Linked DNA regions of Homo sapiens. The protein of the gene in region 3 purifies or fractionates together with the protein of the main gene of each other region. This does not show direct contact. Each region holds a gene or a part of one and is shown on either strand. Other genes may lie near its edges.

Region 1 (3,500 bases), on a different chromosome or scaffold from region 3:
TTTGTCATGTGTAAGTTACATGATCTTACGACAATTCTTCATCTTGCTGAACTGTGGGTTTTTTGTTTGTTTTGTAAGCTGAAGAGGTGGACAAATTATCTTCTGACATTTTAGAAAGTGATTTTCACAAAATGAAAATAATGAAGTGGTGGATAAATCTCATTTATCCGAAAACTTTATAAATGTGGAATCCTCTGACCACATGCCAGAGGAGGTATGGTTTCCCCAGGCTTCCATTGGAATATGTGAGTTCAAAGGTTCCAGTAGAGTTTCCAGCCTTTTGTGCAAGCTCTGGGTTCCAGCCACTTCGAGGGGAAGCCCTGCCCTGCCCTCTGCTTCCCTTGGCTGTCCCATCCCCTCCAACTACTGTGGGGCCAATAACTCTTCCCCTTGAGCTGGTCTGCCACCCCTTATCCTCCTAACTGAGGGAGAGCAGCCTCTCTTCTCCTCCATTTAACCCATTTAGGGTGCAATTTTTTTTAAGAGATAGGGTCTTGCTTTGTTGCCCAGGCTGGTCTCAAACTGCTGGTCTCAAGTGATTATCCCTCCTTGGCCTCCCAAAGTGCTGGGATTACAGGTATGGGCCACTGTGCCCAGTAGGGAGTGACTTTTGTATAGGTAGTTTCTAGAAAACACAGATGGTAGCAAACATGTAAGTCTCCCAAAGAGAAAGCAAATCCTGGAATCACCCCAAACAGAGTTGATCTAAGGTCTCTCCATGCAGGGGTATGGCCTCTGCCTGGTCCCCTTTCTTTTACTCACTCTAGGCAGCTTTGCTCTCTGGAGCAGGGAGGAACTGCTCAGTGGCTAGTTGTCCCTCCACCATGTCTGAAGCCCCCTGCTCAGCGCCCCAGTGGCATCTCCCTCAACATGGTTCCAGGGGCCTCCAGCAATTCTGGGGTGGACTCTCCCACCAAAGTGAAGGCTCCCCAAATAAACACCATGCTCCCAGCCCCCCAGGCACACATTCCTGGTCCCTGCATATCCACTCCTCCTGCCCAGGTGGAGCCAGCTTTTTGGGTGGGCACAGCCCATTGTCAGCTGCCGTTGACCTCGTCAACAAGGCCGACTGAGTTACCTGTGGCTACTCTCATCGGCCCATCGCCAGCCTAAGGACAAAGGGTAAGGCCTGGGAAGATGTCCAAAGGCATGTATGGATAACAGAGATAGAGGCCAGAGAACGCCCAGGGGCAGGCAGGACATCAGAAGGCCATCATGTCCACCTTCTCAGCTTACAGATAAGAAAACCAAAGTGCAGGCAGATTAAGGGATTTTTCTGAAAGTCATTCCCAGAATTAATTAGTGAGAGAGCTGGAGCCAGACCTATGCCTCCCTTACTAATACGTTCATCACATGCCCAAGAGGATGCTGCTTCCAGAATCTCCAGAAAAAAGACCACGATACCCCCGAGAACTCATCCCGGATGCAGTACAACTGATATTGTGCCTCCTCCCTGGGTTCCAGTTTCCTTATATAGAAAAGTGATCTGCCGGGCACAGTGGCTCACACCTGTAATCCCAGCACTTTGGGAGGCCGAGGTGGGTGGATCACGAGGTCAGGAGTTTGAGACCAGCGTGGCCAACGTAGTGAAACCCTGTCTCTACTAAAAATACAAAAATTAGCTGGGCATGGTGGCGCGTGCCTGTACTCCCAGCTACTCGGGAGGCTGAGGCAGGAGAATCGCAGAATCGCTTGAACCCGAGAGGCGGAGGTTGCGGTGAGTCAAGATCGCGCCACTGCACTCCAGCCTGGGCAACAGAGCGAAACTCCATAAAAGGAAGGAAGGAAGGAAGGAAGGAAGGAAGGAAGGAAGGAAGGAAGGAAGGAAGGAAGGAAGGAAGGAAGGGAGAGAGAAAAGTGATGTACGGGAGGGATGGTCTGTTGGGTTCCTCTCAGCTCCAACATGTAAGGTTTCTGTGACCCTCTCCCTTGCAGCCAACACCATGTTCCCAGAAAGGGGTTCTAAGTCCTGGGGCTTCAAGTATAGCCTGGGGTCCCTGCTGGGTCAGTGCCCACCCTGAGGGTGTGTGCGTGCCCTGGGCTGCCCCAGAGCATAGGCCTGAGCCCTGTGGGTCTAAACCATCTCTGTCCGTCCCTCAACCTCAGTGTGCTCCTTATTCGTTGTCTCTTTCCTCCACAGTGTGTCTCTCTTTCCCCATCTTTGTCCCCTGTGCTCTGCCTGGACCTCTTGGGGGCTGCCAGCGAAGGTCTTCTCACCATCACCGTGGCTGACTGCTCCAGCTCTGTGAGGATCCAGCCGGCCTGCTCCAGGCCCCGCCCCTCCACCTGGCACCGCAGCAGCACGTCGTCCCCCACATCCACCGAGGCATTGGGCACCTGGACCTTCAGCGTGGGCACACCTGGCCACCCAGGACGCCCGAGGGCCAAGGGGTGTTAGAGCTGGGAGTGGCCCCAGAACTCTACTGCGGGGCTGCTCCTTCCCCCACCCTCCTCAATGACCTGGAGCCCAGGCGATGTCACCCCAGGCAGTTTCCCCCAGCCTTTGCCAGTGCCCATTCCCCAGGCCTTTTCAGTGCTTGCTCAGTGCCCTCTCCCTCAGGCAGGTAGGTCTCTTCCCCAGCCCCCTTACACCACCTCCCTCACCCGGCACCTACCACAGCTGGCATTGGGCATGTGGGCCAGGGGCCCTTGCCCATGACACTGCAGCTTCTGTTCAGGCACTCCGCCCAGTCCCTCCTCCTCCCAGCGCTGTAGCCAGCGCAGGGCACAAGAACAGTGCAGAGGGTTCCCCGACAGGACCCTGGGGGGCATGGGGGACACCAACAGAGTCAAGGAAAGGGCCTGAGGGATCACAGGGGATAAGAGGGAGCAGTTAGGCAGCAGGGAGGACCGTCTACAGGTGAAAGGGAGGACACAGAGGTCTTTCTCTCTGACTCCAGTAACAGGATGTTATTCAAAGAAATAGGCCATTGGGAGGCCGAGGCGGGCGGATCACAAGGTCAGAAGATCGAGACCATCCTGGCTAACACAGTGAAACCCCGTCTCTACTAAAAATGCAAAAACTTAGCCAGGCATGGTGGCGGGCACCTGTAGTCCCACCTACTCAGGAGGCTGAGGCAGGAGAATGGCGTGAACCCAGGAGGCGGAGCTTGCAGTGAGCCGAGATGAGATTGTGCCACTGCACTCCAGCCTGGGTGACAGAGCGAGACTCCGTCTCATAAAAAAAAAAAAAGAAAAGAAAAGAAAAGAAAGAAAGAAAAGAAAAGAAATAAGCCAGGCGCTGTGACTCACACCTGTTATCCCGGCACTTTGGGAGGCCGAGGCGGAGGATGGCTTGAGCCCAGGAGTTCAAGATCAGCCTGGGCAACATGGCAAAACCCCAACTCTACAAAAAGAAAAAATAACGTAAAAATGAAAGAAATCTAATGCAGAAAGTGGAAGACAAGACAGCTGACGTCTGAGGGATGCATGGGGCTCCCTCACCCCAGGCTCCCCAGGATGAGAAACCAGGCAAGGGCTCTCAGCATGGTGACAAGGAG
Region 2 (3,727 bases), on a different chromosome or scaffold from region 3:
GAGCCACCAAGTCTGTCTGTCTCTTTCATTCTTTCTTCTAGAACTAATAATTTCCTCCTTATTTGTTTATTTAAACTTCCATGTGGAATACTGGGGGAAAACAGCCACAATATTAGGGAGCTCTTCCCATCAATAGGTGGGGCCTCCTCCTCTGTCTTCTGAATCAGGGCTTGACCATGTGCCTTGCTAACAGGACATTAGCAAACATGACACAAGCAGAGGCTTGAAAAATGGTTGAACATTGAGGTTGGCCTGCCCTCTCTTGCTTTTCCTGGCAGCTCTCCAAATACCATGGGAATGAGTCCAAGCTAGCCTGCTAGAGAAGGCCCATGGAGGAGAACCAAGGCACCCTACATGAGTGGCCAATAGCCATTCATGTGAGTGAGGCCATCCCAGAGACCATCCAGCTCCAGCCAATCTTCCAGCTGGCTGTGGCCACATGAGTAAGCTCAAAAACCCAGCAGAAGAGGCACCCAGCTGAACTCAGCCCAAATTACCAAGCAACCAGCCAAATTGCCAAGCAAAACAAGAGTGAATAAATGATCGGTGTTTGTTTGTTTGTTTGGGACAGAGTTTTGCTCTTGTTGCCCAGGCTGGAGTACAATGGTGCAACCTTGGCTCACTGCAACCTCCACCTCCTGGGTTCAAGTGATTCTCTTGCCTCAGCCTCCCAAGTAGCTGGGATTACAGGCACCCACCATCATGCCCAGCTAATTTTTGTATTTTTAGTAGAGACAGGGTTTCACCATGTTGGCCAGGCTGGTCTCAAACTCCCGACATTAGACGATCCGCCTGCCTCAGCTTCCCAAAGTGCTGGGATTACAGGTGTGAGCCATCACACTTGGCTGTAAATGACCATTGTTTTAAGCCACTACATTTCAGGGTATGAATACAGCACATTGTTACACAGCAAAAGCTAACCAATACACTCTTTGGAAAGAGATGTGTGAGTTCATAAAGAGCAGCTGCAAATTCCCAGATAATAACCACAAAAGCTAAGACATTGGTGTTATCACCACATATATTTCAGTACCATAAGTTCTACTTGATTTACAAAAAAAAAAAAAAATGCTAGGTAGTGGCAGTTCTTTGTTCTTGCAGTTGGAACTTGCACTTAAGCCAGAAGTACAGGCTAAAAAATCAACTTGTATCTCTGCTCTTAAAATAATACATAGAACCTATAAGAGCTACATCTGTCTCTGGTTCACGATTGTAAACAAAACAAAACAAAAGGGCTACAATTTATTTATTAAGATATTGGTTCTAAATTCCTCACATATTTGTCCTATAATCACAGCACTCCCCACAAAGTAGGCACTATTGTTATCTCCATTTTGCAGATGAGGAAACTGAGGCACAAGATTATGTATCTTGCCTAAATTGCAGAGTTGGTAAGAGATAGGAGGGGGAGCCAGGATTCAAATGCATTTCTGACTCTACAGTTAATTGCTACCTAGGACTAACACCCAGCTCTGTCACAGATTATCTGTGAAACCCTGAATAAACTGCTTATCCTCGCTGTGCCTCGGTTTCCTTATGTATAAAATGAGGTAACTGGTCTAAATCATAACTTCTTGACCTGAAAAGGGTTCTAAGGACGAGGTTCAGGACCAACCATGATCTCATATAACTGTCTGCAAAGTCTTTGAGGTGAATATGCTTTGGGGGATTGTGAAAGGAGCAGTCAGTAGGATTCCAAAGAGGTCTGCAGTCCAGGAGAGGATAAGAAACACTTGACAGGCCAGGCGCGGTGGCTCACGCCTGTGATCCCAGCAATTTGGGAGGCCAAGGCGGGTGGATCACCTGAGGTCAGGAGTTCGAGACCAGCCTGGCCAACATGGCAAAACCCTGTCTCTACTGAAAATACAAAAATTAGCCAAGCGTGGTGGTGCACGCCTATAGTCCCAGCTACTCAGGGAGGCTGAGGCAGAAGAATCACTAAACCCGGGAGGCAGAGGTTGCAGTGAGCGAAGATTGCACCACTGTGCTCCAGCCTGGGTGACAGAGCAAGACTCTGTCTCAAAAAAAGAAACACTTGACAATGTACTCTCTTAAAGGCCCTTTCCAGGACAAGTTTCTTTTAAAGTCGAATCAGCCGGTTCCATAAAATTGCTGCCAATAACACAGAAACAAGCCAGCATTGGCAGTGCACAGCCCTGGGTACAATTAAATCTGTTCTTCGGCAACCATGAACTGTGATCAATGGTAGGCGTGGTCCTGGTCTTCACTCTAGGCCTGAGTAGCACGTGTCTTTCTCTCACACCCCAAGCCCTGAGAAAGCAGTTATAGACTACAGGAACCACAAGAAGAAGCTCTCACAGTTTCTGTCCAAAGCGTACCTTGCCTAATTTTCCAGGAGCCTGGCTCTTTGTAGCTGCTTCGTCTCTTGACGTTTACCCAGAATGAGTCATTGTCCTCATACCACTGTGCCAGCTGTGGACCTCACTGCCAGCCACACGCTCTATGCTGTGCCCAGATGCTGGGCATCTCTCCTTCCTAGCCACACCCTCCCACCGCCAACGCTTGTCCTATTTGCCTGGGAGACTGCACGCCAGTTTGATATGCAATGCACAGACAGCTGCTTAAAGCTGTTGGCCCTGGCTCTCCTGAGACTCCTCTAATCTCAGCAGACTGGTTGACTCTAAGCCTGTCATGAGCTCTGCTGTGTTACACAAAAACTGTTTGAACTTTTCCTTTGGGCAGTGAAACCTCTGCCACACAACATTGTGTGTGGAAGCCTAAGATAGCAAACAGATCAAAGCTGAGCGGCTGTCGTCATTCAAGCTGGAACAGGGGCCCAAATCCCACCTGCTCAACCCTTCTCTCACTCTCCCACCCCCTAGAATCCTCTGCCACTCTCAGGAGGCTTTAGGGAATCTGGGGGAAATTTTTAAGCCATTGGAGTGGCAGAATCATGACCTGTATGTGTGTGTGTGAGTGCAAGATGAGGAAGAGAGATGGGGGTGGGGAGGGAAAGAGAGAAGAAGAAAGGAAAACTGAGACAGAAGAGAGGCAGAGATGGTGGGGATGAAAAGCTACATTGGGGATGTAGGGGGAAAACAGAGAAGAAACTCAGATTATAAAATCAAAGAAGACAGATGAATTTACATTTTATGAAAGAGAAAGCAGAGACGGAAGGAAAGAATCAGCTACATCAATAGGAAGGGTTTAGAGCCTTCTTCGCGTGTCCAGCCTGGGGAGAGCCCCTGGACTCTCAGGCACCTGGGGTAGCATGTAATGGACGAGGGGGATATGAGCATGTGAGAACGTGGGAGCAAACATTACTAACATCTTGGCGAGGGTCACACCTGGGGTGGGGTGATGCAACATCTGGAGGAAGGTGGGTAATACCTGGACCAGCCATCACCATGTACTGCAAGATGGAGCCCTCCAGATGCAGCAGGGCAGGCCCTGCCCTCAGGCTGACAGTCCAAAAGGAAAGAGAGACAGCCCCCAACACCCATGTTCACAATGCCCATACCTTCACGACAACTTGCTTCATCCAATCCTACGACCAACCGTTTGCAAAAATGGCTCCCTGCATTCCTCTCCCTTAAGGAATCCCTTCCCTACAGTGACTTTGGTTTTGGTCGTATGACTTGCTTTGTCCATTAGGACATCAGTGACATTACACAAACAAAGGCTTGAACTTGCCCTGTCCTCTCTGACTGATCTTGGGAACCCTGCACCACCACCACACAAACAAGCTTCAGCTAGCTTGCTGGAT
Region 3 (3,727 bases):
ATGACTTACAGAAAATGGAAGTGAGGTTCAGAAATAGCTGGATTGGTTACAGCTCGGCGTTTGCCTTATTTGAACACAGTTGGAACAGTTGGCCGCATTTGATTGGCCAAAACTCGGTGATTGGCACAAGAGTAGGCTACAGTCTGTTTACACCTCCACTTGTATAGTTCAGGATTTACAGAGAAACCTTTAGGCCAAATTTAAATACGTAAGGAGGTAGCTTTAGGCTAAACTTGATTTAACATAATAGATCAAAAGGTTAACACTTATTTAATCTCCATGGGGGATGCATAAGTATATTTCATATTAATTATTATGCTAGCCTTTGTTTCTGAAATGTTGAATAAAAGCCAAATAAATGCTATTAAGATAATACACACAAAAATGAATGGAGGGAGTTAGTTTAACTACCATACTTCTCTGGCAGTGTACATAATGTATGAAGTTCTGTATGTGTTTGTATGTAGTGAAGTTTGAAGGACTTTTGGGGAAAGAAAATGTAGTAGACAGGATCTTATCCACTGAGAAAAATGTCGCCTCCAAATGCAAGTATTGGCATATCATTTCTGGTTTTGTTTTGTTTTGTTTTGTTTTGTTTTGTTTTTAAGAGGGAGTCTGGCTCTGTCACTCAGGCTGGAGTGCAGTGGCGCGATCTTGGCTCACTGCAAGCTCCACCTACCGGGTTCGCGCCATTCTCCTGCCTCAGCCTCCTGAGTAGCTGGGACTACAGGCGCCTGCCACCACGCCCGGCTAATTTTTTGTATTTTTAGTAGAGATGGGATTTCACCGTGTTAGCCAGGATGGTATCGATCTCCTGACCTCGTGATCCGCCCCTCTCGGCCTCCCAAAGTGCTGGGATTACAGGCGTAAATCACCGTGCCCGGCCGGCATATCATTTCTAAAGCAGAGCAGTGACAAGGGGCCCTGCCTGTAGCTTCATACTGTCGGTGACCTGACACCCCCCTCACCTTATCCTGCAGAGGCTCCTGGTGTCCCGCAGGGTACTATCCGAGAGCGGGGTGACGGGGATCTCCTGAGCTTGCCCTGCCTTCCGTTTCAGCTCCGCTCCTCCAGCAGGGTGCAGCCTGGGAACATGAGAGAACCCACACTGCATCCAGCTGTTCCAGCCCCATTCTCTGGGGACACTGAAAAACAAATCAGATGCCACTAAGACTCCATTTATTATTATTTTTAAAATTGATAATTCATATATAATCAAATTGCTCTTTTAAAGTTTACAGTTCAGTTGATTTGTTATATTCAAAAGTACAATTATCACCATTAATTCCAGAACGTTTTCATTACCCCCCAAAGAAACTCTATACTCATCAGCAATTACTCCCCATTCTCCACTCCCCACTCTTCCACCAACCACTAATCTACTTTCTGTCTCTATGGATTTGCCCATTCTGGACATTTCATATAAATGGAATCATACTGTATGTATCTGGCTTCTTTCACTTAGAAGAATGTTTTCAAGATTCACTCATGTTGTAGGATCTGTCAGTATTTCTTTCATTTTAGAGTTCTTAATAATATTTGAGTGTATAGGTATATGACCTTTTGTTCATCCAGTCATTAGTTTATGGACAGTTGGGTACTTCTACCTTTTTTTTTTTTTTTTAATGGAGTCTTACTCCATTGCCCAGGCTGGAATGCAGTGGCACGATCTCAGCTCACTGCAACATCCACCTCCCGGGTTCAAGCAATTCTCTCGTCTCAGCCTCCCGAGTAGCTGGAACTACAGGTGTGTGCCACCACGCCTGGCTAATTTTTGTATTTTTAGTAGAGACAGGGTTTCACCATATTGCTCAGGCTGGTCTTGAACTCCTGACCTCATGATCTGCCCGCCTTGGCCTCCCAAAATGCTGGGATTACAGGCATCAGCCACTGCGCCCGGCCCTACCTTTTAGCTCTTATGAACAATGCTACTGTAAAGATGTATACAAGTTTCCTTATGGACATATGTTTCAATATTCTTATGTATATACCTGGGAGTGAAATTCTGTGGTCATATGGTTATGCTGAAACTGCAAAGCTATTTTCTAAAGTGGCTGCACCATTTTACAGTCCCATGAGCAATGTGTGAGGGTTCTAATATCCCCACGTTCTTATCAACACTTTTTCTTGTCCATCTCTTTGATTATAGCTACCCTAGTGGGCATGAAGTGGTCTCTGGTTGTGGTTTTGATATGCATTTTCCTGATGACTAACGATGTTGAGGAACTTTTCATGCATGTATTGGCTTTTTGTGTATCTCTGGAGAAAAGTCTGCTCAAATCCTCAGCTCATTTTTAAGATCGGGTTGTCTTTTCATTGTTGAGTCGTACGAGTACTTTATATATTCTAGATACATGTCTCATTTAAGATACATGTTAGCAAATATTTTCTCCCATTTTGTAGTTTGTATTTTTACTTTCTTGATAATGTCCTTTGAAGCACAACAGTTTTTTCAAATAGCAGAAGGGAGAATTTTGAGAGGTTCATATTCTACCATTTTCCCTCATATCACTAAATTTCCATTTTGTAGTTGGTTTTGTTTGGGATCAATTTCATGGCTTACAAAAATGTGTGCTGTCCCTTGAGGAGCTGGCTATCCTTAGGCATAATTTCTTTTTTAATTAAAATGTACTTTTACAAAAGGACATCCTTCAAACATGATTGAAATGTTCCAATGAGTGAAACTCTGAATATGGCAGAGATATTTTGCTAAACCACTCATCTGCTTTTCATCTATGCATGAGACCTGGATGGCTGAGGAGGCACTGACTAAACTCTCTTTTCTTAATAACAGGCGCTAACATTAGATTTGTTGATTTTGGCTGCAAGTTCAACTTTTGGCTAAAGCCCTTGGAAATCTTCCTTTAACAGAATGCAGAGTCTGGATGAGCCATGGACGGAAGAGGAGGGAGATGGCTCAGACCACCCATACTACAACAGCATCCCAAGCAAGATGCCTCCTCCAGGGGGCTTTCTTGATACTAGACTGAAACCCAGACCCCATGCTCCTGACACAGCCCAGGTAAGTCTTATAGTTTTTTTCTTATATAAGGAATGGAGGCTAACTCTACTTTATTTCCTTTTGTTTTCTTTGGTTTTATTTCAGGCTGATGTTCTGTTTCATTTTTGACACAGTAAATCATGAGCTTTCTCTCACTGGATTTCATGAGGCATGCAGATGAAGAGAGGCTTTGGGTTAACATCATAAAGCATTGGCCAAATGCTTTGGAACTGTGTGGTGATTCCTGGGATATGAGTCTGGGGGTGTCCTCTGTACCCTCAGACATATTCCATCATACTGTGATCTCAGTGAGGGAAAGAGAGAATTTAAGATTTTAAAAAGGCTTGGGAGGCATTGGGTTCTCTGAAAAGGAGTGAATATAGACGCTTAAAATGATGAGAATTTTATGAGTTTTCTATTTTATTCATTCCCTTGTTTTATGTCCAACTCAAAATTCTAGTAAGGCAATTGCTTTCTAGAGTTATGATATTTCTGTTTTGTTATAGGAAATTTTTTAACGTTACTACCTTATGTGAATGATAATGACACCACTAAAAATGGCAAAATAACGTTGAGCTCAGGGATCTGACACTGAGAGGGAATTTCCTGATTTTTTGAAGGAAATTTCCTGGTTTACAGAGTGGACTTGACCAAGTGTGAACGATCATGGGCGTATGTGTTATGTGGGAAGTGTGTTCTGACACATAGATACTCTGTAATTGAAAT

The links.
Region 1: the proteins of SHC3 (region 3) and NTRK1 purify together in Homo sapiens (affinity purification with western blotting; 2 studies listed by BioGRID, with this or other methods). This does not show direct contact.
Region 2: the proteins of SHC3 (region 3) and ZAP70 purify together in Homo sapiens (affinity purification with western blotting, with the first as the bait; one study listed by BioGRID). This does not show direct contact.

What each region holds. Positions count from the first base shown.
Region 1 is NC_000001.11:156,867,365-156,870,864, reverse strand, and holds part of NTRK1 (high affinity nerve growth factor receptor isoform 2 precursor), read right to left. Parts: intron 2,762-3,500; coding exon 2,616-2,761; intron 2,361-2,615; coding exon 2,218-2,360; intron 1-2,217. UniProt on the Homo sapiens protein: Receptor tyrosine kinase involved in the development and the maturation of the central and peripheral nervous systems through regulation of proliferation, differentiation and survival of sympathetic and nervous neurons.
Region 2 is NC_000002.12:97,727,065-97,730,791, reverse strand, and holds part of ZAP70 (tyrosine-protein kinase ZAP-70), read right to left. Parts: intron 1-3,727. UniProt on the Homo sapiens protein: Tyrosine kinase that plays an essential role in regulation of the adaptive immune response. Regulates motility, adhesion and cytokine expression of mature T-cells, as well as thymocyte development.
Region 3 is NC_000009.12:89,046,139-89,049,865, reverse strand, and holds part of SHC3 (SHC-transforming protein 3), read left to right. Parts: intron 1-2,871; coding exon 2,872-3,022; intron 3,023-3,727. UniProt on the Homo sapiens protein: Signaling adapter that couples activated growth factor receptors to signaling pathway in neurons. Involved in the signal transduction pathways of neurotrophin-activated Trk receptors in cortical neurons.